Linked DNA regions of Homo sapiens: all the other regions are linked to region 2. The links come from fine-mapping of genetic effects on gene expression. A gene starts in region 2. Each other region holds a variant in brackets. All regions are shown on one strand. Distances are between the middles of the regions.

Region 1 (6,461 bases), 24 kb after region 2:
TAATTAGGTCCCATTTATTTTTGTTTTTGTTGCATTAGCTTTTGGGGTCTTAGTCATGGATTTTTTGCCTGGGCCAGTGTTCAGAAGAGTTTTTCCAATGTTGCAGAATTTTTATGGTTTCAGGTCTTAGATTTAAGTCTTGGAAGTCTGGTAATGTGATGCCTTCAGATTTGTTCTTTTTGCTTAGTATTGCTTTGGCTATCTGGACTCTTTTTTGGTTCCATATAAATTTTAGGATTGTATTTTCTAGTTCTGTGAAAAATGATGATGGTAATGGTAGTGTTTTGATGGGAATTGCATTGAATCTGTAGATTGCTTTGGGCCATATGATCGTTTTCACAATATTGATTCTTACCTCCATGAGCATGAGATGTGTTTTCATTTGTTTGTGTCATGTATAGTTTCTTTCAGCAGCGTTTTGTAGTTTCACTTGTAGAGATCTTCACCTCCTTGGTTAGGTATATTCCTAGGTATTTTATTTTATTTTTTGCAGCTGTTGTAAAAGGAATTGAGTTCTTGATTTGATTGTCACTTTGGTTATTGTTGGTGTATAGCAGAGCTATTTATTTGTCTATATTAATTTTGTAACCTAAGACTTTACTGAATTCCTTTATCAGATCTAGGAGTCTTTTGGATGAGTCGCTAGAGTTTTCCAAGTATATATGATCATATCACTGATAAACAGTACTTGTTTGACTTCCTCTTTTCCAATTTGGATGCCCTTTATTTCTTTCTCTTGCCCAATTGCTCTGGATAGGACTTCCAGTACTATGTTGAATAGAAGTGGTGAAAGTGGGCATCCTTGTCTTGTTCCAGTTTTCAGGGGGAATGCTTTCAACTTTTCCCCATTCATTACGATGTTGGCTGTGGGTTTATCATATATTGCTTTTACTATTTTGAAGTATATCCCTCCTATGCCTAGTTTGAGAGTTTTTTGTCATAAAGAGATGCTGGATTTTATTGCATGCTTTTTCTGCATGCAATTGAGATGATCATATGGTTTTTGTTTTAAATTCTGTTTACGGGATTTATCACATTTATTGACTTGCATATGTTAAACCATCCCTGCATCTCTGGGATGAAACTCACTTGATCATGTTGTATTATCTTTTTGATGTGCTGTGGGATTTGGTTAGCTAGTATTTTGTTGAGGATTTTTGCATCCATGTTTATCAGAGACACTGGTCTGTAGTTTTCTTTTTTTAATGTCATTTCCTGGCTTTGGTATTAGGGTGATACTGGCTTCATAGAATGATTTAGGAAGGATTCCCTCTTTCTCAATCTTTTGGAATAGTTTCAGTAGGATTGGTACCAATTCTTTGAATATCTAGTGGAATTCAACTGTGATCCATCTGGTCCTGGGCTTTTTTGTTGTTGGCAGTTTAAAATTACTGATTCAGTCTCACTGCTTGTTTTTGGTCTGTTCAGGGTTTCTGTTTCTTCCTGATTTAGAGGATTGTATGTTTCCACGAGTTTATCCATTTCCTCTAGATTTTTCAGTTTGTGTGTGTAAAGATGTTCATGTTAGTCTTGAGTGATCTTTTGTATTTCTATGATATTGGTTATAATATTTCCAGTTTCATTTTTCATTGAGCTTATTTGGATCTATTCTCTTCTTGGTTAGTCTAATGGTCGACCAATTTTGTTTATTTTTTCAAGGAACCAAGTTTTTGTTTTATTTTTTGCTTCAATTTCCTTTAGTTCTGCTCTGATCTTTGTTATTTCTTCTGCTGGCATTGGGTTTAGTTCGTACCTGTTTCTCTGGTTCATTGAGGTGAGACAGTAGATTGTCAGTTTGTGTTCTTTCAGACTTTTTGATGTATGTACTTAAAACTATGAACTTTCCTCTTAGCACTACTTTTGCTGTATCCCCAGAGGTTTTTATAACTGTGTCACTACTATCATTCATTTCAAATTTTTAAATTTTTATCTTGATTTATTGTTAACCCAGAAATTATTCAGGAGCAGATTATTTAATTTCCATGTATTTGTATAGTTTTGAGCATTTCTTTTGGAGTTGTTTCTAGTTTTGTTCCACTGTAGTCTGAGAAGATACTTGATATGATTTCAATTTTCTTAAATTTGTTGAGACTTGTTTTGTGGCCTGTCATACAGTCTATCTTGGAGAATGTTCCATGTGTTGAGGAGAAGAATGTATATTCTGCAGTTGTTTGGTAGAATGTTCTGTAAATATCTGTTAAGTCCATTTGTTCTAGGGTATACTTTAAGTCCATTGCTTCTTTGTTGAGTTTCTGTCTCAACAAAAAGAGTCTAGTGCTGTCAGTGGAGTATCGAGGTCCCCCATTTCACTTTGTTGCTATTTCATTTCCTAGGTCTAGTAGTAATTGTTTTATAAATCTGGGAGCTCCAGTATTAGGTGAATATGAATTCAGGATTATAATATCTTTTTGTTGGATTGTTCCTTTTATTATATAATGACCTTCTTTTTCTTTCTTTTTTTTTTTCTTTTTTCTTTTTTTTTTTTTTTTTTTTTTACTGTTGTTGCTTTAAAGGTCTATTTTGTCTGATATAAGAATAGCTACTTTGCGAGGCCAAGACGGGCGGATCGCGAGGTCAGGAGATCGAGACCATCCTGGCTAACACGGTGAAACCCTGTCTCTACTGAAAATACAAAAAATTAGCCGGGCGTGGTGGCGGGTGCCTGTAGTCCCAGCTACTTGTGAGGCTGAGGCAGGAGAATGGCGTGAACCCAGGAGGCGGAGTTTGCAGTGAGCCGAGGTTGCACCACTGCACTCCAGTCTGGGTGACAGAGGGAGACTCTGTCTCAAAAAAAAAAAAAAAAAAAAAAAAAGAATAGCTCATTCTGCTTGCTTTTGGTTCCCATTTGCATGGGATATCTCTTTCCCCCCCTTTACCTTGAGGTTATATGAATCCTTATGTGTTAGATGACTCTCTTGAAGACAGCAGATATTTGGTTTGTGATTTTTTAAAAATCCATTCTGCCATTCTGTATCTAAGTGGATCATTTAGGCCATTTACGTTCAACATTAATATTGAGATGTGAGATACTGATCTGTTTATCATTTTAGTTGTTACTTACTTTGTTTTTTTTTCATTGTGTTATTGTTTTATAGGCCTTGTGGGTTTTATCTTTCAAGAGGTTTTATTTTGGTGCATATTGAGCTTTTGTTTCAAGATGTAGAACTCTTCTGAAGAGTAATGCTGGTTTGGTAGTGGCAGATTCCCTCGGCATTTGTTTATCTGAAAATGGCTTTATCTCTCCTTCATTTAGGAAACTTAGTTTTGCTGGATGCAAAATTCTTGGGTGGCAGTTATTCTGTTTAAGGAGGCTAAAGATAGAACCCCAATCCCTTCTAGCTTGTAAGGTTTCTGCTGAGAAATCTGCTGTTAGTCTGATTGGTTTTCCTTTATAGGTTACCTGATGCTTTTGTCTCATAGCTCTTAGGATTCTTTCCTTCATGTTGACTTTAGATAGCCCGATGACTATGTGCCTTGGTGATAATCTTTTTGCAATGAATTTCCCAGGAGTTCTTTGAGCTTCTTGCATTTGGATATTGAAATCTCAGGCAAGGCCAGGGAAGTTTTCCTCAATGATTCTCTCAAATAAGTTTTCTAAACTTTTAGCCTTCTCTTCTCCCTCAGGACCACCA[A/C]GTATTTTTAGGTTTGGTTGTTTTACATAATCCCATATTTCTTGGAAGCTTTGTTCATTTCTTCTTTCTTTTTTTTTTTTTCTTTCTTGAGATAGGGTCTTACTCTGTTGCCCAGGCTGTAGTACAGTGTTGTGACCTTTGTCTCCTGGGCTCAGGCAATCCTCACACCTCTGCCTCCTGAGTATCTGGGACTACAGGCACATGCCACCACTCCCGGCTAATTTTTATGTTTTTTTTGTAGAGATGGAAATTTGCTATGTTGCTCAGGCTGGTCTCAAAGTCTGGGCTCAAGCAGTCCACCTGCCTTGCCCTCCCAAAGTGCTAGGATTATAGGCATGAGACACTGACCCCAGCCTATTTATTTCTTTTGATTCTTTTTTCTTTATTTTTGTCTGATTGGGTTAATTTGAAAGCCTTGTCTTGGAGCTCTGAAATTCATTCTTTGACTTGTTCTGGTCTATTGTTGAAACTTTCCATTGCATTTTGTATTTCCCTAAGTGTGTTTCATTTCCGGAAATTCTGATTGTTTTTTCTTTATGATATCTATGTAGAAAATTTTTCCTTCATATTCTGAATTGTTTTTTAAGTTTTTTTTTTATGTTGGTTTTCACCTTTCTATGGTGTCTCCTTGAGTAGCTTAATAATCAACCTACTGAATTATTTATCTGATTATTTCAAATATTTCGTTTTAGTTTGGATCCATTGCTGGGGAGCTAGTGTGATCTTTCGGGGGTATGATAGAACCCTGTTTTGTCTTATACCAAAATTACTTTTCTGGTTCTTTCTCGTTTGTGTAGAGTATTTCTTCTAATTGTTCTTGAATTTATTTTTGATTTGGCTGTGGTTTTTTTAAGTTTCTTTTTCCTCTTCACTAAGGATGTGACTTTAGTGTTTATAGTTTATTATAGCCTAATGTGATTCTTAATGCTTTTAGGGGGAAGACTGTATGAGTTCCTTGGCTATAGAGAGTCTTTGTATGATGGCTTCTTTAGATGCTGGTTGTATTTATTTATTTATTTATTTATTTTTGTTGAGATGGCGTCTCGCTCTGTCACTCAGGCTGGAGTGCAGTGGCACAATCTTGGCTCACTGCAACCTCCACTTCCCGGGTTCAAGTGATTCTCCTGCCTCAGCTTCCCGAGTAGCTGGGACTACAGGTGTGCACCACTACGCCTGGCTAATTTTTGTATTTTTAGTAGAGACGGGGTTTCAGGATGTTGGCCAGGCTGGTCACAAACTCCTGACCTCAGGTGATCCACCTGCCTTGGCCTCCCAAAGTGTTGGGATTACAGGCGTGAGCCACTGCCCCTGGCCTGTATTTAATAGATATGTACTTGATGTGTGGGCAAGTTCACTGTCTCCTATGGGGTTGAGATGGAAAGGTCTCTTGAAGCTCATCTCATTCCCCTGTGGTGTGTGCTTTTTTATTTATTTAATTTTTCCCCTGTATTTTATTTACTAAGTTGATGGTTAAGGCTTCAGGCCAGTAGGGGAGCTGTCCCTGGGTAGGAACCAGTTGTGGCTAAAGCAAATGGGTAAATGCAATACTCAGTAAGGCAGAGAGGTTCCACCCTTGATGAAAGTGGCTGGGGGAACTCTCAATTAGATGCACTGAGGTCTTATCAAGGGGAAGGGTGGGAGCCACCTCAGCTCCTTTGCCAGGCCAGTAGGAAAGCTATTCACCTCCCAGACTCGCTCCTGCCCTAGTGTTCCAGCTATTCGGATCAGACAGGCATCTCTTTTCATCTGTAGGACTGTTGTTGTTCCACACAGAGAGGAATTTGTGACTCTGCCTCTCTTGCAAGCCTGAACTTGGGCCAGGGCGGGGGTGGGGGTTGGGGGATTCCTCCTGTGGAGATGCAGTCACTCTGTAGTGTTCCAGGAAGGCTGTCTATAGGTTCACCTTTGCCAAGCTCCTGTGGAGAAGCCCCAACTGTGTCTGTGTAGTGGTGGACAAGGTGGGAGAGAAGATACCTTCTCCAGGACCCTTCATGAGCAGCAAAGCTGCCTGATTGTTGGGGTAGAGCTGCAGACTTTCCCTTCTGAGCCCAGCACTGCAATTGTGTCTCTGCTGAAAGGAACTTCCCATCAGTGGAAAGATCTGGAACTCAAGGCCTGCCATCTGAATTCTTTTGTCCCATGGGGTATTCCCTTGGTGTGGTGGTCTCCTCCTTCCCTTAGGAGTAAGAATTCCTGAGAGCCAGGATAAGTTGATTGCTATTCTTCTGGGTCTAGCCACCCAGTGGGGCTGCCCAACTCCAGGCTGGTGCTGGGGAATGTCTGCAAGGGATCCGGTAATGGGACCTGTCCTCAAGTCTCCCAGCAAGGGATATACCAACACTAGTGCTGATGGGAGTGTCAGGTGAGTGAGGTAGACTCTTTGAGGTTCCTTGGTTACAGAAAGCCTTAGTGTGCTGGCTTTCTCGAATGCTGGTTATAATAGTAGTGAACTGGTCACGTGGACAGATGCAGGACCTCCTGGTTAGCCAGGGTTTTGCAGGCAATGATGATAGCTTAGGTCATGCACTGGTTTTCTCCTTTCTGTTCACAGTGTTATTCTACCTAGAGATGCTGTAGTGGACTGTGTTGGTTGGCATCCAGCCTGGAGGTAGCGTTTACAAAAGGGCACCAGCTGCAGTAGTAGCAGTGGGATTCGAGCTTGTCCTGTGTTGCCCAGGAGGTATTCTGGTTTCTCAGGTGACAACGGGGTCCATAAAGCTGCCAAAAGTTTCTGTCCTTTGTATTAAGTAACCAGGGTGGGTGGAGGGGTACAGCCAGGTGGGGGCTGGGTCAGGTGGGTCTACACTCTGTCTCTCCATGTGTGGGGAA
Region 2 (6,461 bases):
GCTTTAACCTGGGATGGGGAGGTTGCAGTGAGCCAAGATTGAGCCACTGCACTCCAGCCTGAGTGACAGAGCAAGACCCTGTCTCAAAAATAAATAAATAAATAAATAAAAATAAACCTTACAACTCTGAGGTAGAACTATTATTATTCCAATTTTACAGAAGAGGAAACTGAGGCCAAGTTGTCCAAGTCACACAGAGGTAACTGGCAGAGTTGGAACTAACCTCAGGACAGTCTAACACCAATGACTGGGCTCTTGTTATTATGTCATGGGTAACAAACTCAGAACACAAGGGTTTCACAGATCACCCCCTCTCCACTTTTACAGAGGAAACTGAGATCCTTAGGTGAATGACCCTGTGTTATCCAGGAAGTCAGGGCAGAAGCAAGATTTGTACCCAGGTGTTGACTCCAAATTTTCAGCTCTACTGTCTCAGAAAGTGAGAAAACTAAAAGATCAGGGTGACTCCTGTCTCACAATGGAGAAAAAAACTCAAACACAGCCACCAGCGGGGGGACTAAGGACAGGAAAGCAGCCTGGAGCATAGTGGTATTAAAGGGCAATTACTGGATAATTGCCTCCTACCTCCAACTTCCTCCTACCCCCACCCACCTGCCCCAAGCTGGAGCTTGCATGTGAGGTCTGAGGAATAACATTACAGATCTATAGAACTATGGAGTGCCCATAGGCAGGGCATTAGGACAGTGAGAAAGAAGTGGAGGGAGAGAGGACTAGCTGGAGGAAGCAGTTAGGTTCAGTGAGCCTCCCTGTGTTGGGTTTTCTACTAAGCACTGGTTATCTAAAGTTAAATAAGAAAAACTTCCTTGCTTCTGAGGATCAGGATAGACTGCATGGAGGAGATGATACCTGAGCAGGTTTCAGAGCCTGAAAAGACATAGAGGAGGGGGCGAAAACCTCTGGACTCACATGCAATTGCCTATTTGCTAGCTCGATTCAATTTCACAAATACATTCTAAAGGCCTTCTCTGCGTTGGGCCTTGTTCCAGGTGCTGGGACCACAGTGGTGAGCAAATCAGCTGCAGTCCCTGACCTTTGGCTGGAGAGTCTGTCTAGGAAGACAGCTAAACAATCTTAACACAGTGTGAGATGTGCTTTATGTAAGGAACCTACAAGGCACTGTGGGACAAGGGAGTCCAACTGCCCCCAGGCCAAAAGCAAGTCCCAATTTCTGAACATGAAAAAACTCTTCACAATCTAATGCCATTCTCACTTTCCAGTCTCATTTACCACCATTTCCCCAAAAGCTGGGAACACAACAAAGTATGTGTGTGTGTCTGTGTATGTGAATCTGAACATGCCAGGCCTTTGCTCACACTGCTTCTGTTCCCTGGCATATGGATGCTTTCTTGGAGAAACTCTCCTCAACACACTCAGCCTTACTCAAATTCTCTCTTGTGCTCCCAAGGCAATCTGCCTCTCTAGGTTGTCCATCTGCCTCTCTAGGTTGGTAAAGTCTTTAAAGCAAGGACCCAAATGCAAGGTCAAGAGTACCCATTACGGAGTTATACAGATACAGGTGGGCTTTGCCTAGCCAAGAGGCTTTGGCCTCTAAGCTGCCCTCTCTATCTAGATGAACTGTTACTACTCCAGGAAATGCAATCAGTACTGATGTTTAGTTCTTGGCACATGGTAGGTGCTCAAAAATGTTTTCTGAGTTGAATTGCATTAACATTAAGGTCATAGGTCAGAATTTGTACTTTATGAAGGCCCTGGCTATGAGCTGGATCTGGGAAGGGCTCATGATCAACTTTAGCAGTTTTCTGTGGCTAAAAATGAGAAATATAAACCATGTTCTTTGTCTTGAAGACCTGCCTGTTAGTGGGAGAAACAGATGGTCAAGCTCTCAACAGTACAATTCCAAATTCCTAGAGCAGTGGTTCTTAAACTTTAGCAAGCAGATCAGAATCACCTAAAGGTCATCTGCTAAAACAGATGGCTGGCCCCAGCCCCAGAGTTTCTGATTTAAAGGTCTGGAGTAAGTTCTGAGAATTCGAGCTTGCATTTCCAACTCACTCCCAGGTGATACTGAAGTTGCTGGATTGACAAGATTCCCTCCTTGATCAAACATTGGTCAGGCTCTTCTGAGCTCTCTCTTTGACTAGGCCTGAGTGTGGGCTCCCATGTCATTCCTTGTGGAATTCCATTTTAGCAAGAAACTTGCCAAGTCAGTTTAGCCAGAATCCTCCATTCTTGATATCTGATTACTCTCCATATCTGGTTTTGACCCATACCGCCACCATCCCCCAGGTGATGTTCAGTTACCCTGACCTGCCTTGGGCAGGAATCCTGTTAGGTCAATTTAGCCAGATTCCCCGCCAATGTTTCCTCTTAGTAATTTTCCATCCACTGACTTCCACACACTGCCCCTTAGCTATAAATTACCACTTTGCTATATTCAGCCCAATCGCTCTGACTTATGGCAAAACTCTATCCCTACCTCTGTCAGATTGGGCCTGAATAAAGTTTGCCTTACCATTCTTAAACATGAATAATTAAGTGTCATGAATAGTTTTTTCTTTAATGGGATCCATACTTTGAGAACTACTGATTAGAGGTTAAGGGTCCTGTGCTCATTATCTGGCACATATTAATGATAGGTCTCTGAGTTTGAATCCTGGCCAACCACATTGTCAGTCTTGGCTTTTTTTTTTTTTTTTTTTTGAGACAGGGTTTTGCCCAGGCTGGAGTGCAGTGATGCAATCACGGCTCACTGCAGCCTCGACTTCCTGGGCCAAGCCATCCTGCCGCCTTAGCCTCCCGAGTAGCTGGGGTCACAGGTGCAAGCCGCCATGCCCAGCTAATTTTTAATTTTTTTGTAGAGGTGGGGTCTTACTATATTGCTCAGGCTGGTCTTGGGCTCCTGGGCTCACCTACCTCGGCCTCAGTCTTGCCTCTTGATCAAATCACTCATCTCTCTGTGCTTGATTTACCTCATCTGTGAAATCCAGATAGTAAGCTAGTGCATGGTAAGTGCAAAAAGCAACACCTGGCACAATGCTTAATAAATGTTGGTTAAATCTTATAATCATTTTCTGTAGGAAGTGGGACGACAAAGTTAAGGGTCTAGGTGGTCAGAGAAGAGCAAGGACTATGTCCCTTTTTTGTGCAGCCAGGCAGGCCCTGTACTTTTTCTCTGCGCGACCCTCCTCGGGCAGCACCGGGTCTCGAACTCTCACGCCTTACTCCCAAGCAGGTTCTGTAGTCCAGCCCCCGCGGCTCCCTACAGCCAGCCGATGCTGCGCAAGCGCCGTACCCACGCTTTAGCACATGCGTACTCAGGTGCGCCGGTAGGGGACGCGCCGGCACAGCAAAAATGGCGGCGGCATTACGGGTGGCGGCGGTCGGGGCAAGGCTCAGCGTTCTGGCGAGCGGTCTCCGCGCCGCGGTCCGCAGCCTTTGCAGCCAGGCCACCTCTGTTAACGAACGCATCGAAAACAAGCGCCGGACCGCGCTGCTGGGAGGGGGCCAACGCCGTATTGACGCGCAGCACAAGCGAGTGAGTCCTGAGGGGCCTAAGTGAGTCCCGCCCCTGGCGTCCGCGACCTATCACTGCGTGCCCGGCTTGCGGCGTCCGAGGCCTCCCTGCCAATCCGCACGGTGCCTGGAGGGGCCGGAGCAAGGGTGTTCACCTTGAAAACCTGTAGCGTTTCTCGTGGAGGCGGGTATAACCAGCAGAAGCACCTGTGTGCTTTTTCATACTGTTTAACCCTTGGGATTTAGACGGATCTGGCTCGTCTCTAGCCAGCTCAACACTTAACATAAGCTTTTGGGCAACTTATTAAATCTCTGTGGGTCATTTTAATAATAATTCTTCCTTCACAAGTGTATCGTTAGACCATAGATAGCAAAATGATAGGCGCTCAGTAAAAACCATGTGCTTATTCTCGTGCCCCATGAAAGAGTGATGGTAGGTTCTTTCTCCTTTGTGGAAGCAGGAAAACTGAACTTGGGCATACTCCACTAACATGAAATGGGGGATGTGCGCGTGCAGGAACTTGTGGAACTTCTGCCCGCAGAATGCCTGGTCGAGCTCTTTAGGGCCTTAGCATGCCTCGCCTTGATGGGTAGCAAAGGCACGTGTCGGAAGCAGGTGGCCTTTCTGGGAGTGCGCAGGCTACTCTCGATGTTTGGCTGGACTGAGCAGTTGAAACACTGCCACCCACCGCCTGGGTTTTGAGGCGAGAATCCAGCTGGCCTTCAGAGATAAGCTGGGCGGCCCATTTTGGAGAGGTGATCCCTGACTTGAAACCAGGCTTGCCCAGTGTGTCCGTGACTGGTGGGTGAGTCTGGACCGTTGTGCTGAACGAATTAACCAACGGGAAGGTGCAGAAGTGAAACTCTTACAGATGAAGAGTATTCAGGCACAACTCACAACCATGAGGGAGGCACTGGGGGAGGGATGGGGTCTTAAAGTGAGGAGATTTGAACAGCTCTATATTTGTCTAATATTGATTCAGATGTCATAAATTCGCATTTGACAAGGGTCCAAAGGTAACAGTTCCTTTTGACACTTGAGAGTGAAATGTAAATTTAGTGATGGTTTGTGGTGCTAGGAGTGCTTTCTCTCCCCTGGGGCTACTTCTAACCTACTCTGTTAGGGCTGAGGGAGATGTTAGATCATCCTCTGGAAAGGCCTGTCAGTGCTCCTGTACACTCTTTCTGTTGGGGCCTATTGCTCAATTCTTCCCTGGAACATCGCCTAGCCCTTTCCCAGGTAGATCCTACTAGGTTTAGATGAAGCCTCCAGAAGCTGTTTTTCTTTTGCCAAAGTTAACTTAGGAGGCTGATTTAATATGAACCCCCTCCTGCACCCCTTTTTATTTTTATGTTTTGATACGGAGTTTTGCTCTTGTTGCCCAGGCTGGAGTGCCATGGTGCGATCTTGGCTCATTGCAACCTCTGCCTCCCAGGTTCAAGCTATTCTCCTGCCTCAGCCTCCCAAGTAGCTGGGATTACAGGTGCCCACGACCATGCCTGGCAACTTTTTTTTTGTATTTTTAGCAGAGACAGGGTTTCACCATGTTGGCCAGGCCGGTCTTGTACGCCTGACCTCAAGTGATTCACCCACCTTGGCGTCCCAAAGTGTTGGGATTATGGGTGTGAGCCACTGCACCCGGCCCTGCACCCCTTTTAAAACAATTTTTGACCATTTCCGTAGATTTTCCCAGAAGAGGAATTAGTGGGTCAAAGGGTGTAAGTTTATTTATTTTTTTTGAGACAGAGTTCACTCTGTTGCCCAGGCTAGAGTGCAGCAGCTCACTGCAACTTCTGCTTCCCAGCTTCAAGCAATTCTCCTGCCTCAGCCTCCAGAGTACCTGGGGTTACAGGTATGTGTCACCACATCTGGCTAATTTTTGTATTTTTAGTAGAGATGGAGTTTCACCATGTTGGCCAGGCTGGTCTTGAACTCCTGACCTCAGGTGATCCACCCGCGTCTGCCTCCCAAAGTGCTGGGATGACAGAATTTTTTTTTTTTTTTCCTTGAGACAGGGTCTTACTCTGTCACCCAGGCTGGAGGGCAGTGGTGTAATCATGGCTCACTGCATCCTTGACCTTCTGGGCTCCAGTGATCCTTCCACTTCAGCCTCCTACCCAGCTAATTTTTTTTTTTTTTTTTTTTTGGTAGAGACAGGGTCTCGCTTTGTTGCCCAGGCTGGTCTCAACTCCTGGGCTCAAGCAGTCCTCCCACCTTGGCCTTCCAAAGTGCTGGGATTACAGGTGTGAGCCGCAGTGCCTGGTCAGTATAAATATATTTTAAAAATCTGTATATATGTTGCCAAATTGGTTTCCTGAAAACTTACTCTACTTTACATGACAGTGTATAGGATTGCCTGTTTTTTGTTTTGTTTTTTTTTTTTTAAATGCAACCTCACCAGCTTTGGCTACTTTCCTAAGGGGAAAATAATAGCCAATTTGAGGTATTTTTTGTTTGTTTTTGTTTTTTTCGGGGAGGGGGGGATAGGACAGTAGGCTAGGGTATTTGCCTCGGGTTGAGAGCTTGGGAGTCCAAGCAATGGAGGTTTTTTTTTTTTTTTTTTTTTTTTTAAGATAGAGTCTTGCTCTGTCACCCAGGCTGGAGTGCAGTGGCGCGGTCTTGGCTCACTGCAAGCTCCGCCTCCCGGGTTCATGCCGTTCTCCTGCCTCAGCCTCCTGAGTAGCTGGGACTACGGGTGCCCACCACCACACCTGGCTATAATTTTGGAGTTTTAGTATAGACGGGGTTTCACCATGTTAGCCAGGATGGTCTCGATCTCCTGACCTCGTGATCCGTCTGCCTCGGCCTCCCAAAGTGTTGGGATTACAGGCGTGAGCCACTGCACATGGCCTCTTTTTTTTTCTTAAGACAGGGTCTCACCTTGTTGCTCAGGCTGGAGTGCGGTGGAGTGATCGTGGCTCACTACAACCTCTGCTTCCCAGGTTCAAGTGATTCTCCTGCGTTA
Region 3 (5,000 bases), 310 kb after region 2:
GCAAAGGAATTGGGGTATTTATACACTAACTCCCGGTCAGTCACTTGTTAAAGCCATGGTGCCCAAACTGTGCACTGAGATGTCCTGAGGGACTCACACAAAATGATATGGGTAATGTGGATATTTTAAATATTCAAAGGAAAACAATACAATATTTGATATTTGTCAAGTACCACAGGAACTATTAGCATGAGGCAACTTGCAATCTCAACATCTGGTCCTTTATTCCTGTTGATAATGCCCTATCTTTGAGAGGCTGAGTTTCAACAAGGGCTATCAAAAAACCAATATAAAACAGGAAATGAAGATAATTTCAAAATGTGAGAAGCTATACAATGCCCAACACATCTGTACACACATTAGTAAGTAACTGCAGTTATTTGAGACATGAATACAATTTTTTTCAATTATGTATGTCATTTTCTAAATGGCTACTAAGTTGTGAGGACCTAAATAAATAGTTTGGACATAACAACTTCCTGAAAAGAATGTTAGGTATTTCTTTTGGCTTACAGGTGCCATGAAAAAATCACTGAGATGCTAATTAGCCAGCGAACTGGGTTAAGTTCAGGAACTCTTAGATTAAGTGCTCCTAGGTGATTAATTCTCTGGCAATTCTGCACTCCTAGAAAGCCCTGAGGCATCCGGAACTTCTCTGTTAGGCACAAACAGAGCAAAATAGAAACATTCCTTGTTATATTCAACTAAGAAAGAAGGTTGCTTTTAACCACCAACTTTCAAGTTTGATCAACAACCCTTATTAAAAATAGGCACATCTGTCAATGAAAACTACTTATCAAAAACCATATATTTCTGAAATTAGTTATGTTTAAGTACATACCAAAGTAAATATGTACGTGTATCAACAAGGTATACTTTGAATATATGGAGAACATATCTTCATTTTGCTATGCATAATTCCCTGAATACATGCTATAATTCTGTGTTCTTAGTTCTCTCATAACTTATTCCAATAAACACTTATGAATTTACATAGCTTTAGAATGCAACTCTAAGTCAACAGTGTTTAAATCAACTTTACCTTTGCATTTTTCCCACTTCATTGATACTGAATATATCTATTACTACTACATATTGAGTTAGCCAATTCTGAGGTTTCCAATGGTAAACAGAATTCACTCCAGCTGGTTCAAATGAAGAGACTACAGACGTTTCAGCAGAGTTAGAAAAACAACTATGGGTGCTAATGCAACTTGAGATAGCTAAATTAGAAAACCAATACTGCACCTTAGGGCTTGGCTCAAGAGCCAAGATGAGAAAATAGTGATAATAGGGATACTGGAGCCAATGAAGGAGGAGTTGTTCATACTATTCACTCATGAGAAGATGTTTCACTTTGTTCTGTCATTGTTGGTGATACCACTTCTAGCCGGGAACTTGGGTGGGGACGGGGCGAATTGTGATTTTTTTTTTTCCTGCCTTTCCTTGCTCTCTTCCCACTTCAGGTCAATTTTTAAAACACTCTTTTGGTCCTTGGTTCTTACGCAGCTTTAGGGGAAAATGGGCTCACACAGTAAAATGCCAATCTAGATTTTGGATATTAATGTGCAAGACAAGGAGTCCTTATAAAATGCAAATCTTATCTCAACATATATTAGAGATAGCAGCCTTTGTAATACAAAAAAATTTCCCCCACTTGTCCCTTGTCGTTTGACTTTCCCTATAATGTGTCTCCATCTTACAAATTTTTTGTTTTCTTATGTCATTTATGAGTCTTTGCTAACTTATAGATTTTGAGTCAGTTAATTGTGAGTCAGTTAATAAAAAGGTCTTCCCCACTCCGTGGTTATAAAGGAATTCTTAGTTTTCATTGAGTGCTTTTACTATTTTTCTTTGTATTTGTTGTTTGTTTTTGCCCTTAAACTCTTGATGCACTGGAAATTTATCCTGGTTTACACCATCACAGTGAAATGTAAATCTGAAAGAATTTTCCCCCTCACTTTTGTCTTGAAAAGGAGGTCTTTAAATCTTCTAACTGGCTGTAGGATAGTAATTTTTCTCTATAAATTCTGTATCTCAATATATTATGGAATTATTTTATTGCTTATAATAGTTTTGCAAACTGATTCTCCTGAGTTTTCTAAACATGCTATATTATTTTGAATAACATCATTTTAAAAACAGTGATCATAATTACTTTTTATTGTCCAAATGTGTTGGCTTGCATATCCAATATAATGTTAAATAAGAATTGTGAGGCTGGGTATCCTTGTCTTGACAGTGACAATGACTACTGATTTCCCTTGAGCATGACGCTGGCTTTGGGGTTAAAACATTTTTTTTTTTTTTCATTTTTGTACTTTGACATAATTTTAGATTTACAGAAAAGACAGCAAAGTACAAAGAACTTCTGAATACCTTCCACCCAAATTCTTCAGATGTAAACATTTACATCCGTTTTATCCTTCTTTCACTCTTCATATACAGATGCATTTGTTCTGAATAAGTGTTTAGCTACAGACATGATATTCCTTTACTCTTTAATATTTCAGTGTGTATTTCCCCCAAATAAACCTATTATACAACCACAGTATAGTACAATGTTCCAAAGCATAAGATATAACAATTGATACTACATGTATGTTCTAATCCACAGAACTAATTAAGATTTCACGTGTCTCAATAACGTCCTTTATGCCAAAAGAAATTCTAAGATCATGCACTGCAGCCACCTGTCACATTTCTTCAGTCTACTTTAAACAGTTTCTGAGTCATTTCTTTTT[CT/C]TTTTTTTTTTTAGACAGAGTTTCGCTCCTGTTGCCCAGCCTGGAGTGCAATGGTGTAATCTCAGCTCACTGCAACCTCCGCCTCCTGGGCTCACGCGATTCTCCTGCCTCAGCCTCCCAAGCAGCTGGGATTACGGGCACCCACCACCACGCCCGGCTAATTTTTGTATTTTTAGTAGAGACGGGGTTTCACCACATTGACCAGGCTGGTCTTGAACTCCTGACCTCAGGAAATCTGCCCAAAGAAATTCTAAGATCATGCACTGCAGCCACCTGTCATGTTTCTTTACTCTACTTTAAGCTAGAACAGTTTGAGTCATTTCTTTTTTTCTTTTTTTGAGACAGAGTTTTGCTCCTGTTGCCCAGGCAGGAGTGCAATGGTGTGATCTTGGCTCATTGCAACCTCTGTCTCCTGGGTTCAAGTGATTCTCCTGCCTCAGCCTCCCAAGTAGCTGGGATTGCAGGCGCCTATCACCATGCCCAGCTAATTTTTGTATTCTTAGTAGAGATGGGGTTTCACTACACTGGCCAGGCTGGTCTTGAACTCCTGACCTCAGGTGATCTGCCCGCCTCAGCCTCCCAAAGTGCTGGGATTACAGGTGTGAGTCACGACGCCCAGCATTTCTGACTATTTCATGACACTGACTTTTTTGCAGAGTACAGGATAGTTGTTTTGAAGAATATAACTCAATTCAAGCTTGTCTTATGTTTCTTCATGAGTAGATTCAGACTATGCACTTCTGGCAAGAATATCACAGAAGTGATGTTGAGTTCTTCTAAGGGCATATCAGAAAGCACATGATAGCAATTAGCTCCGTAACTTGCAATGTTTGCTTTTATCATTTGTTAAGGTGCTATCTATCAAGTTTCTACATTGCAAAGTTTCTATTTTACCCTGTAAATAGTAGATATCTTGAAAGGAGACATTTTGAGACTGGGTAAATATTGTGCTCTTCATCAAACTTCTCCCCGACCCCACTAGTTTCACAGCCCACTTACTGAGTTCCCAAGTTACGTTGGTTAGTAATTTTACACCTTTCAGTGTGGTTGTTATTATGGTGTAAAGGTTATTTGTTCTGTTTGTATTCATTTTTAGGATATTCTCCCTCCATCTTTGTTGATTTTGTTTTCTTGGGGATTTGAAATATTAAGATAGCTCCAAAAGTCAGGACTATTCAAAAACTATAAAACTATATTCAAATTCAGTATCATTCCCTCACCTCAATTCCCTCTAAACTTTCCGACACACACACACGCACGCACGCACAAACTCTCTCTCTCTCTCTCTCGCTCTTTAGGTAACCAATCTCGTTACCGTCAGGTTTTTCTTTCCTGTATTTCTTTTTGGTGAAATGAACCCTTATATTCCCTTCTTTCTTACAAAAAAAAAAAAAAAACAACAACAACAAAGTTGCATACTGTAGATATTATTCTGCAATTTGTATTTTGCCCTAAAAACATATCCAGAGAAAGGCCGGGCACGGTGGCTCATGCCTGTAATCCCAGCACTTTAGGAGGCCAAGGCGGGTGGATCATGAGGTCAGGAGTTCAAGACCAGCCTGATCAACACGGTGAAACCCCATCTCTACTAAAAATACAAAAAAACTTTAGCTGGGCATGGTGGTGCGTGTCTGTAATCCCAGCTACTCGGGAGGCTGAGGCAGGAGAACTGCTTGAACCCAGGCGGCGGAGGTTGCAGTGAGCCGAGATCGCACCACCGCACTCCAGCCTGGGTGACAGAATAAGACTGTCTCGAAAAAAAAAATACAGGGAAAATCCCTACTTCCATTCACAGACATCTTCCTCATTCTTTTTTACAGTAGCACAAAACTCCAACATGTGGCTATCCTATAGTTCATTCAATCACTGTCTTATATATGAACATTTGGATTGTTTCCAATATTTTCCAGTAACAAATAATGTTGCATTAATTTTGTGTACCTATTTTCTTACTGCTGAAGGTATATATTCAAGGTAAAATCCCAGAAGTAGGATGGTTGAGTCAACAGATAAGACATAAATATAGATTTGGTAGATATTCCTGGATACCTTTACAAAAGAGTTTATCAATTTGTATTCTAACCAACAATGTAACAGTGTCTGCTTTCCCCCGCCACAGCCTGAACAACAGAATGTTGTTATGATTTTAAACTTGTGCCAATCTGATAGGTAAAAAGAAATGGTAACTAAGTATAGTTTTAATTAGTAAATCCCTTTTGTAATAAGTAAAAAATGTTTTCTTTTCATATGTTCTA
Region 4 (6,461 bases), 110 kb before region 2:
AATCACCAGTTGGCAGTAATGTGGAGAAACCAAAACTCTCATACATTGGGCTGGTAAGGATGTAAAACTATACAGCTTCTTTAGAAAAGTTTGGCAGTTTCTTAAAAAGTTAAACATACATTTGGCTTATGAATCAATAATCTCACTCCTAGAAATCTACCTAAGAGAAAAGCTCACCCAGTGTTCATAACAGCATTATTCCTAGTAGCTCAAAACTGGAAATAATCCACATGTCCATCAAACTGGTGAACTGATAAAGCAAAATACATCTTTTCATGAGAGACTTTCAAGCAAGGACAAAAATAAATATGTATATATATATATTTTTAAATATATGTATTTTTTATAACATTCCACCATATGATGGTGAGCTGAGATTGTGCCATTGCACTCCAGCCTGGGGAACAAGAGTGAAACTCCATCTCAAAAAAAAAAAAAAAAAAGAAATTTACTAAAATGCACTGAACACTTAAAATTGGTAAAATCTATGGTATGTAAATTAACCTAAATAAAGCTGTTTTTAAAAAAGCAAGAGCCAAAAAACTTCAGCTTATTAAATTGGCAGCAATTTTTAAAACATAAGTTTTAAGGATAATATTCAATAAATGTTTGCATTACTACTGTATATTAAGCATTATTGGATACTGGCAAATGCAAGACAGGATGGGAAGACAGACAGATGCAGTTAAAATATAGTGTCTTCACTGCTGTCTCATAGAAGAAACAAATTGCAGAAACACCTCACTCTAGGCTTACTGCAGGAAGACACGCACTTTCAAACATTGCTGGTAAAAGCATATTGCCCCAGTGTCCCTGGAAAGTAATTTGACAATATGTAGCAACAACTTGAATTTATGCCCTTTGACTCCCTGATAGTAATTCTGAGTATCTATTGTAAATAATCAGAAATTTGGATAGAATTGTGTAATCTAAACAATTGGCACTGGTCACAGGTAATTCTAAAATAAATTCAAAGCAACACAAATGTTCAATATAGAATGGTTAAATAAGTCATGGTATCTGTGTCATAACATGCAGCTATTGAAATGTACTTGAAAATTTTTAATTTCATAGAAAAATCCAGATTACAAAATTGTGATATAATCTCAGTACTTAAAATGTGTGTATGTATATACACAAGCTAAAAGATAACACCCCAAAATATTAACAGTCATTAACTCTGGGCTGTGGAATTGCAAGTAATTTGGTTTTTTATACTGTTCTATAATTTATAAAGGTTCATGTAATGAGCGTGTACTGTATTACTTTAACAAATGGGAAAAAATTATTTTTCTCCTTTATCTGTTTATATAGGTAATACATGTTCATTGCAGAAGAGTTAGAATATAAACAAAAATCTACACCTAAAATTCACCACCCAAAGACAGGCTGTTTTATCACTTTGGAGTATACCCTTCTATACATTTCTGTGCAACTAGATCATGTATTTTACAAAAAATATTACTATTGTTTTATAACCTGCTTTAAAGGAAGAAGAAATAGATAGCAGATCTAAACAAATAGACATGTTCATCTGAAAAGAGAAACTAGTGGCATCTAAAGAGAATAAATAATTGGCTCAAGCGAAAGTTTTTTTCAAGTTGTGGTAGCACTGAGAGAACGTGCCAGTGGAAGGAAGAAAGAGGAGGCAGGGGGTTGCAGACAGAAGCACAGGTGAGGAGGGGTCACAAGAGGAGACGCAGAGACCAGCTGGAGTGAAATTCAACCGTTGTATATGAGAGGCTCTTGCTGCTTGCTGGATACCCCACTTCTGTTGTGGGAGATAAGATAAGGCCTACACAGAACACATGTGGGTTATGAGGTCCCAAGGGGCAAGGAGGCTTACAACAGCCACAGTCTATAGAGCAAGCACTAGAATGTGAACAAAGGAAAGGAAAGGAAAAAGCCCGTTTACAGGAATAACAACTGACCAACTCGTGCAAAAGCAAGGCCAGACCTAAATTCCCAAGGCTAAATCAACTAGGGTTTCATCTCAAGAAAGAATCACAGATATGTCAGGGAGAGTCTAATTGTCAAACAGAAATTGCCAGACTCAGGTATCAGAAAGGGAGGAATGTTAGTACCACAGAAAGACCAGAGGCTTAGGAGCCAGACAGATCTGGTCCACTCACCAGCTGGGCAGGTTACTTGACTCCTGAGGCTCAGTTTCAGAAGGCATCAGCATCCACTTCCTGAGGTGGTTGTGAGAATCTAAGATATTATATGTAAACACCTGGCACATGGCTCATGATAAATAGTAGCTATTACTACTCCATATAGGAGAAATACAATGTAACATCATGGGCCCACTGCAGTGGCTCACGCCTGTAATCTCAACACTTTGGGAGGCCGAGGCAGGCAGATGAGGCCAGGAGTTCGAGACCTGCCTGGCCAACATGGCAAAACCCCATCTCTACTAAAAGTTAGCTGGGCGTGGTGATGTGTGCCTATAATCCCAGCTACTTGGGAGGCTGGGGCGGGAGGATCATTTGAATGAACCTAGGAAGGAGGTGGAGGTTGCAGTGAGCTGTGATCATGCCATTGCACTCCAGCCTGGGCAACAGAGCAAGACTCCGTCTCAAAAAAAAAAAAAAAAAA[AAAAAAAAAATTATATATAT/A]ATATATATATAAAAAACATCATGGTTAAGAGCATGAAATTTGAAGTTAGACGAACCTAACTTCAAATCCTTGCTTTATCACACAAGCTGTGTAATCTCAGGCATCCAAGCCTCAGCATCCTCTATAAAAATAAGGGTACGACTTGGCACACTGAGCTGTTTTAAGGATTAAATAAGACAGTGTATATAATATAAGGCCCTTAGGCATAGTGTCTGTGTAATCAATAAACAATGGCTATTTATTGCTACCACTTTTGTGATCACATTACCTAACCTCTCTGAAGTAGAGTTTATTCAGCTGTAACATTAGCATTCTATCCCTTATCTTGTTCCCTTCACTCCTAGGGCACATTTTACTGCTTGACACAGTAAATATCTGTTGCATGAACAGCAGGATTGTACTGAGAATTAAGAGATAATGTATATAATGAATCTAACAGTGTCTGGTATATTAATGCTAAAAAAAAATGGAGCTATTTGTTTTACCATTAGATTGTGAGCTCCTCAGGGGCCAAGAACGTTTTCTTAGTCTTGTAGTCCCAGCACCTGGCAAACTGTTACGTAGGAGGTCCTCAGCAAATGTTTACTGAAAGGCACAGACCACAGCAATACAGCAGCCACCCTCACTACAAGGATATCTACAGTAGTCCAGATGATTTGGCCCTCCAAAAACAACTTAAAATCCTCCACCTACTTTACCATCTAACAACAATCACAGGTAGCCATTGTGCTAAGCATCTGTACCTCCTGATTTCAAGACTGGTACTTATGTAATGTCTTCAGTAAGTAACCTCGTAATCACTGCAGGTCTCAGTGAGGTGAAGCAAGACCAAAGCTTCCGTAAGTATGAGGCTGTAAACATTGCAAATTAACATGTCTAGCACACAAAGTGATCACAGCATACAACAGCATTTATATAAACTCAACCCTCGTAAGAGAAGCCAGAAAGACAGGGTACCAGTTACTTAATCCAAGTCAACTAAATGTGTTACCTATATGAAGATAACAGGTTATGATACCATATTTATAATTAACATTCTTATGGTTTATGCAATGGAGTACATTAAAAACACCACAGAAATTATGTAAAGAAGGCTAAAGGGTCTTCCATGTTACTATCCTAAGAAACTGAGACCCTCAATAATCAGAAACAAGCTTTTCTGCCAATTTGACTAATACTTGAAAAAATGGAAAATATAAAGAGATTAAAATCACTCTTGGTTCAATGATCCAGGGATAACCATTATTTTATACTTGGTATATTTCTTTTTAACACTTGTTACTAATGTGTTCAAAAACAGGAATTTTAGTGCTTCAGTGTTCTCAAGCAGTAACTCACATCCATTTCCCTATTATTGGACATTTGGGCAGATTAGAACTGTTTTCTATTGAATGTTTTTAAAGGCAGCTTTTTCCTTTATATTAAAAATATATGAATTACTCTGTCAGAGATTTTTTTTTTTTTTTTTTTTTTTTTGAGATGGAGGCTCGCTCTGTCGCCTAGGCTGGAGTGCAGTAGCGCGATCTCCGCTCACTGCAAGCTCCGCCTCCCAGGTTCAGGCCATTCTCCTGGCTCAGCCTACCGAGTAGCTGGGACTACAGGCGCCTGCAAGCACACCCGGCTAATTTTTTGTATTTTTAGTAGAGACGGGGTTTCACCGTGTTAGCCAGGACGATCTCGATCTCCTGACCTCGTGATCCGCCCACCTGGGCCTCCCAAAGTGCTGGGATTACAGGCGTGAGCCACCGCGCCCGGCCTCTGTCAGAGATCTACATTTACATCCATCAGCACTGGAAACTAAGGCACTATAGGTAAAGAAAGCCAGCCAGAAACCCATTAGAGCAATCGTCCAGGAATGTAACTAGTGAGAAGTATGAAGCCCAACTCTCCTCAGTGAGGTGGGAGAATGTAGGAGAGGAACAGGGAAACAGGGAGAATGGAGGCTTGTGTGTATATATTAGGGTATAGGGAAAGAAAAAGAAGGAATGACATGAATTAATATTCTAAAACATGAGTTATAATATTACAGATATATGAGTTTAGAATTATTTTTTAATGCTTAATAAACAGAGCCTCTACGTGGGCCTGAAGTTAATGTTTTATTTTTTTCCACATTGAACGAACCATATCAAAGCCCAATTTTAATTTATTTCAACAGATATTTACTGGTACCTACTCTATGCCAGGCACTGTGCTTGGTAATAAACATGAATTCAGACCGCGTCCTTCCAGTTCATAATTAGAATATATTTAGCCCACATTTTTATGCTGTCTACATCCACAATGAGTAAGAATTAACAGTTGATAGCTCATGATTCTGAAGAACTGCAAGAGTTCCTTTAACCATCAAAACTGAAGTGAAATCTACTTCCTGGGACAGGAAAGCAAGTGGTACATATTAGGAAACTTCAACAAGAGTTGAAACTAAAGATTTTCTGGTCACTGGATGGGTTAAGGAAATTCAGTGAACCAAATATCCAACTTCCAAAATTTCAGCTAATCCATTTTATATAAGTGGCTTAGGATATCTATTTTTAACTTAAAAGTATAAAGATAAATCACACACTTGTATTTCTGAAGCATTATAGACTCCAAACTAGAGAAATATTGAATTTTTTTTTTTTTTTTTTTTTTTTTTTTTTTTTTTGAGACAGTTTCGCTCTTGTCATCCAGGCTGGAGTGCAGTGGCACAATCTCAGCTCACAGCAACCTCCACCTCCCAGGTTCAAGCGATTCTCCTGCCTCAGCCTCCCGAGTAGCTGGGATTACAGGCATGCACCACCACGCCCAGCTAATTTTGTATTTTTAGTAGAGACAGGGTTTCTCCATGTTGGTCAGGCTGGTCTCGAACTCCCAACCTCAGGTGATCTGCCCACATTGGCCTCCCCCAAAGTGCTGGGATTACAGGCATGAGTCACCATGCCAGGCCAAAATATTGAACATTTTATTCTATGCCTATAGGTACCATGTGTCTTAGATATGCCCAGATAATCCCTGAATCAAATATTCTATTCCTTTGTCCCTGTAAATAGTCAGAATCCTGGAAACTGGAATCAAAACATAACTCCCAGACAACACCCTGAAACTGCATACAATCCTTTGTCAAACAATTTATGTCCCAGTCATTATCTCTGCTCATTCCAACTTTTATATTTCCATCCCAGGAATCTGCAGAGCCCGCCTTAATGCTTTTGCCCAGAAACTGCTCATCTGAAAGGGAAGACTTACTTAGGGAAGTAAGTTTCTAAAGGCAGTGGTGTTGCTGGCCAAATTACATGAACCACCATATCCCCTCATGCTAACAAAACTATGTTAGAGAATTTGTTCTCAGGCTAGGTGCGGTGGTTCACACCTGTACTCCCAGCCCTTTGGGAGGCCGAGGGGGGGGATCATGAGGTCAGGAGATCGAGGCCATCCTAGCCAACATGGTGAAACCCCATCTCTACTAAAAATACAAAAGTTAGCTGGGCATGGTGTTATGTGCCTGTAATCCCAACTACTCACGTGGCTGAGGCAGGAGAATCGCTTGAACCTCGGAGGCAGAGGTTGCAGTGAGCCGAGATCACGCCACTGCCCTCCAGCCTGGTGACAGAGCGAGACTCCATCTCAAAAAAAAAAAAAAAAAAGAGTTTGTTCTCAGCTGGGCATGGTGGCTCAAGCCTGTAATCCCAACATTTTTGGAGGCCGAGGCAGGCGGATCACCTGAGGTTGGGAGTTCAAGACTAGCCTGGCCAACATGGTGAAAACCCTATCTCTACTAAAAATAAAAAAAATTAGCTAGGTGTGGTGGTGCATGCCTGTAATCCCAGCTACTCAGGAGGCTGAGGCAGGAGAATCGCTTGA
Region 5 (5,000 bases), 180 kb after region 2:
ACATTAGTTGTTGATCTCTTGTTGCTTTCAAGATTTTTTGTCTTTGTCTTTTAACAATGTGACTATGTTGTGTCTATATGTGGAACTTTTGTGTTTATTTTATTTGGATTTTGTTAAGCTTCTTGAATCTGCAAATTGTCTCTCATCAAATTTGGGAGGTTTTCAGTGATTATTTCTTCAAATATTTTTTCTGCCTCTATTCCTCTCTCCTTTCCTTCTGGGATTCCCATTATACATATTTCAGTGCACATGATGGTGGTTCCACACATTTCTGAGGCTCTGATAGTATTTCTTCAATCTTTTTTCTTCTCTGTTCTTCAGAATGGATAATTTCTATTAATCTTCATGTTTTTCTATTGTCTCTTTCATCATCTTAAATCTGCTAATTAACTTACTCAGTTAATTTTAAATTTGTGCATTGTACTTCTCACCAGAAATTCCATTTGGGTTTTCATTATTGAGATTCTCTACTTCTTGTTTTCATATTTTCCTGTAATTCTTTGAATATACTTATTAAAAGGCCTCTGAAGTCTTTGCCTGCTAAATCCAACATATAGCCCTACTGAGAAGCCATTTCTATTGTCTGCTTTTTTTCCTGAGTATGGTCACATTTTACTGTTTCTTTGCATGGCTGTAGTTTTTCTTGAAAGTAGACATTTTTGAATAATACAGTAACTAAAGATTTTAATTTTTGTTTTCTTTTTTTTTGGGGGGGGGGGGGCACAGAGTCTTGCTCTGTCACCCAGGCTGGAGAGCAGTGGCATGATCTGGGCTCCCTGCAACCTCTGCCTCTGGGTTCAAGTGATTCTCCTGCTTCAGCCTCTCGAGTAGCTGGAACTACAGGTGCATGCCACCCTGCCCAGCTCATTTTTGTATTTTTAGTAGAGACGGGGTTTCACTATGTTGGCCAGGCTGGTCTTGAACTCCTGACTTCAAGTAATCCCCCACCTAGGCCTCATAAGTGCTAGGATTACAGGCATGAGCCACTTAATCCATTCTCTCTGACAACAAAGCTTCTGGTTTTTGCACGCAGTGCCACTCTGGTAACAAACTACAGATCTTATCGACCAAGCATGTGGGTACATGTGTATTGGCAAGAAGGCCACAGACTTCCGCTGCTTTTACCTGAAGCTCTATCAATTTTTCAGGAAAAAATATTTCCCAATGTGTGTTTTTTTTTTAATCTTTGGTGAATTTCCAGAGCCCTGATGTAATGTTTTTGACAATACATTCCAGTTTTATACTTGCTTTTTGCAGAAAGATCTGCCTACCTCTTCAAACCAACAGAGCCAGGAGTCTCTCCATCTATGATTATCTGAACTCATCTTTAATATAAATACCTGTATTACTAGTCCCATATTACAGATAAGGAAACTAAGACATACAAAAATCATTCATCTATCTAAAGATTATATAGCTGCTAAATAGAAGAACTTGCAAACTAGGCATTTTGCTTCCAGAGCCTTTATGTACTTTTAATAGACGTAAAAATCCTTAAAATATATATATATATAAAATACGTAAGTACAATAACAGAAGCAGGTACAGGTGCTATGGGAGCATGAAGGAAAGAATCTATTTTTGGAACCTGAGTATAGCATATAGGATATAAAGATGAAGCACCATAGTCCATCATTTATAAAAACACCATGTTTTTAGGGATACAAATATCAGTAAAATTTCCAAATATTTAAGACAGTTAATTGCCATTAAAAACCTTTTAGGAGATTTCTCACTAATGTAACTTACTCTCTTGCCGGTACCCCTTCCCACTGGAGGATGTGCCTCAGCAGCTTGACGAATTGTACAAACCATTAGCTCTATAAGAGCACTCTCTTGACGATCAGACATTGCTAAGGTAAAACAAAATACATGAGCATGAGTAGACAGTTTTACAACAACCATGTATTAAAAATGAACACATTATTAAAAAAACTGAAAACATTCTATTACTGCTTATTTTAAAGACTAAAGTTAAGCTCTGTACTTTGCTATTTTTTTTTTTAAAGTAATTATGTGCTTGCTGTCATAAGTCAAATAGGAAAGAGATACAAAGTAAAGAATAAGAGGATAAACTCTGGTCTCTTCTAATGCTACCTTTCTAAGTTAGGCAATTCTAAAATTTCACAGTGTTTCCTTCTACATAATTTCAAAACTCCTAATTTTTCTTTTTTAATGAAAAAGACTATGCCGTATGTTTTTAAAAACTTAACAGACAATATTTTTCAAGTCAATACACACATAATAATTATCTTAATAAATTACTATCTAACGTATGTACCATAATTCAGTCAGCCTTCTACTTATGGTCATTCAAATAATTTCCTGATTTTTGACACTGAACAATGCTTCAATAAACATCATTAATAGATATATATTTATGTAACTGATACATTTATTTCTGTACAATAAATTCTCCAAAGAAGAAATAATGGATTCAAATGGCAAGACCTTGATATTGAGAAATCATAAGATTATTTATTATAATTTATATCCCCAACTGCAATGTTATGAATGTTTGGTTCCTTATATCCCTGTGAACACTAGATGTTATAAACCATTTTAATTTTTGCCAGTCCAATGGTTGAAAAGGGGTATTTGGTTATTATTTTGCTCCTTCCTATCTACTAATTAGTTAAGTGGAATATATTTTCTATTTTTCCCTAAGATTTGTCTATGTTTATTCTTCACCTGTTTTTGTGCTACTATTCACCTTTCTTATCAATCTGAGAACTCTTGTATGGTAGGGGTAGTACTTTTTATCTTTTGAATGATGCAAGTATTTTCTCCCAGTTTGTCATTTGTTATCAGACTCTTCA[T/C]GGTATCTTCTGTCAGACAGAAATTGTTAATTTTTAAAAAGCCACGTCTGTCTCCTTTTGTTTTATGGCTTCCAGGTTTCTTGTATTGCCTTCAAAGATCTCTCTGTCCTGCAGATTACACTAATATGTTCTTCATTTTCTTCTAATTTATTTCATCTTTTGCTGTCTCGTGTGCTTGCTTGCTCTTTTGCTCTTCCTTCCTTTCACTTTTTCTGTCTCTCTTGCTTGCTCACTTTTGTATTTTTAACCTATTTGGCATTTATTTCTGATGATAGTAGGTGGGTCTGTTTATTCCCACCAAATAGCCAGTTGTCTCCACCACTGTTAAACCAGATTTCCCTTTTTAATTTAAATGTCATTTTTAAACATGGTTCAGGCATTTTTGGATTCTTTAGTTTCACTAATCTATTTGTATATTTCTATGACAATGCTTTACTGCTTTGATTATACTAGACTTATGGCATAATTTGTTATAACTTAATATGTAACTTAATTCAACCAACTTGAATATATAAGCAAGTTTCCCTTATCTAGCCCTTTTTCTAAAATTTTGTTTAATTTCTATAACGCTAATAGCAATTCATTTATTAAGAATTTTCTATATCTAAAGCACGATCATAAGTGGCTTATATGTAATAACTTGTTTTATCCACAAAACATTTCTAAGAGATAGGAACTAATATCCTCACTTCACAGACAGGGAGAATGAGCCACAGAAAAATGCACTTAGCTAGCAGTAGAGCATTCAAATATATGAACTCAGGTAGTTTGACCCCAGAGTCAGTTCTCTTAAGCACTACGCTATACTGTCTTTTCAGCATAAGCTTAGAATTCTACATAAACTTTAAAATCATTTTGCTTAGTTAGTTCGTATTCACCATATCTCCCAGAACTCTCTCAAACCCACTGGAATTATGACTAGTACCATTAAAAAAAATGACATTTTCAGCTAGAAATACAATATAGCTTTTCAGTTTTGAGATCTTAAGTCATTTAATTAAAACTATGGTTTCCTTCACATAGATTCTATACTTTCCCGAATTCTTTTTTTCTTTTTTTTTGAGACGGCATTTCACTCGTGTCACCCAGGCTGGAGTGCAGTGAGGCTATCTTGGCTCACTGCAACCTCTGCCGCCCAGGTTCCAGTGATTCTCCTGCCTCAGCCTCCCTAGTAGCTGGGATTACAGGTGGCTGCCACCGCCCCTGGCTGATTTTTGTAGTTTTAGTAGAGACGGGGTTTCACCATCTTGGCCATGCTGGTCTTGAACCCCTGACCTCGTGATCCACCCGTCTTGGCCTACCAAAGCACGGGGATTACAGGTGTGAGCCACTGCACCCAGCCTGTTTTTTTTGAGACAGTCTTGCTCCATCGCCCAGGCCAGAAGGCAATGGCGTGATCTCAGCTCACTGCAACCTCCGCCTCCCAGGTTCAAAGGATTCTCCTGCTTCAGCCTCCTAAGTAGCTGGGATTACAGGTGTGCCACCACACCCGGCTAATTTTTGTATTTTTAGGAGAGTCGGGGTTTCACCATGATGGCCAGGCTGGTCTCAAACTCCTGACCTCAAGTGATCCACCGGCCTCAGCCTCTCAAAGTGCTGAGATTCCAAGCATGAGCCACCACGCCTGGCCTCATTCTTACATATTTTTAAACTCAGATATTTTTGGTTTTTTTGGAAGTGGAGTCTCACTCTGTCACCCAGGCTGGAGTACAGTGGCGTGATCTCGGCTCACTGCAACCTCTGCCTCCTAGGTTCAAGTGATTCTCCTGCCTCAGCCTCCTGAGTAGCTGGGATTACAGGCATGTACCACCACGCCCAGCTAATTTTTGTACTTTTAGTAGAGACAGGGTTTCACCATGTTGGCCTGGCTGGTCTCGAACTCCTGAGCTCAAGTGATCCACCCACGTCGGCCTCCCAAAGTGCTAGATTACAGGTGTGAGCCCCTGTGCCCAGCCTTAAACTCAGATTTTGATAATTCGAATAGTTTAGTTCTTTCTTTCTCCTTCCCTCTGTATACTTATTTATATTGAAGACCAGTAGATGTAGGTATTATAGACACAGAACTAGGTATAAATTTAAGAATTCAATTAATTTACAAAGGTTTAAAAGTTTACATTGATTATTTTAAACTAAGTTGGAGCAAAATCAAAGAAAAGGCAAAAAAGATACAACATCTTGTTC

Alleles and levels. Positions count from the first base shown, and alleles are read on the strand shown. Sizes are in standard deviations (SD) of each study's normalised expression. Not every link is listed here.
For the expression in monocytes after LPS of the gene that starts at base 3,299 in region 2, allele AAAAAAAAAATTATATATAT in region 4 goes with a lower level than allele A (small effect, 0.36 SD a copy in Fairfax 2014).

What was found. PIP is the estimated chance that this variant, and not a neighbour inherited with it, causes the effect. A credible set is the group of variants that fine-mapping cannot tell apart.
Region 1: its variant is the best candidate, but not a certain one, in a credible set for the expression of PCCB in whole blood (INTERVAL, PIP 0.86).
Region 3: its variant is the best candidate, but not a certain one, in a credible set for the expression of PCCB in whole blood (INTERVAL, PIP 0.73).
Region 4: its variant is the best candidate, but not a certain one, in a credible set for the expression of PCCB in monocytes after LPS (Fairfax 2014, PIP 0.69).
Region 5: its variant is the best candidate, but not a certain one, in a credible set for the expression of PCCB in whole blood (INTERVAL, PIP 0.78).

What each region holds. Positions count from the first base shown.
Region 1 is chr3:136,271,125-136,277,585 of GRCh38, forward strand. The region is part of intron 5 of PCCB (propionyl-CoA carboxylase subunit beta); the gene reads left to right. Among named protein-coding and RNA genes, the nearest start is that of PCCB, 24 kb to the left of the region's middle. The variant A/C (reference allele first, on the strand shown) is at 3,633.
Region 2 is chr3:136,247,042-136,253,502 of GRCh38, forward strand. It overlaps PCCB (propionyl-CoA carboxylase subunit beta), which reads left to right and starts at 3,299. Exons shown (of 15, transcript NM_000532.5): 1 at 3,299-3,517. The coding sequence starts at 3,335. RefSeq lists enhancers at 2,938-3,804, 3,034-3,093, 3,724-3,773.
Region 3 is chr3:136,559,522-136,564,521 of GRCh38, forward strand. The region is part of intron 5 of STAG1 (STAG1 cohesin complex component); the gene reads right to left. Among named protein-coding and RNA genes, the nearest start is that of STAG1, 190 kb to the right of the region's middle. The variant CT/C (reference allele first, on the strand shown) is at 2,745.
Region 4 is chr3:136,133,466-136,139,926 of GRCh38, forward strand. The region is part of intron 13 of PPP2R3A (protein phosphatase 2 regulatory subunit B''alpha); the gene reads left to right. Among named protein-coding and RNA genes, the nearest start is that of MSL2, 60 kb to the right of the region's middle. The variant AAAAAAAAAATTATATATAT/A (reference allele first, on the strand shown) is at 2,599.
Region 5 is chr3:136,431,807-136,436,806 of GRCh38, forward strand. It overlaps STAG1 (STAG1 cohesin complex component), which reads right to left. Exons shown (of 34, transcript NM_005862.3): 16 at 1,750-1,853. Among named protein-coding and RNA genes, the nearest start is that of PCCB, 180 kb to the left of the region's middle. The variant T/C (reference allele first, on the strand shown) is at 2,820.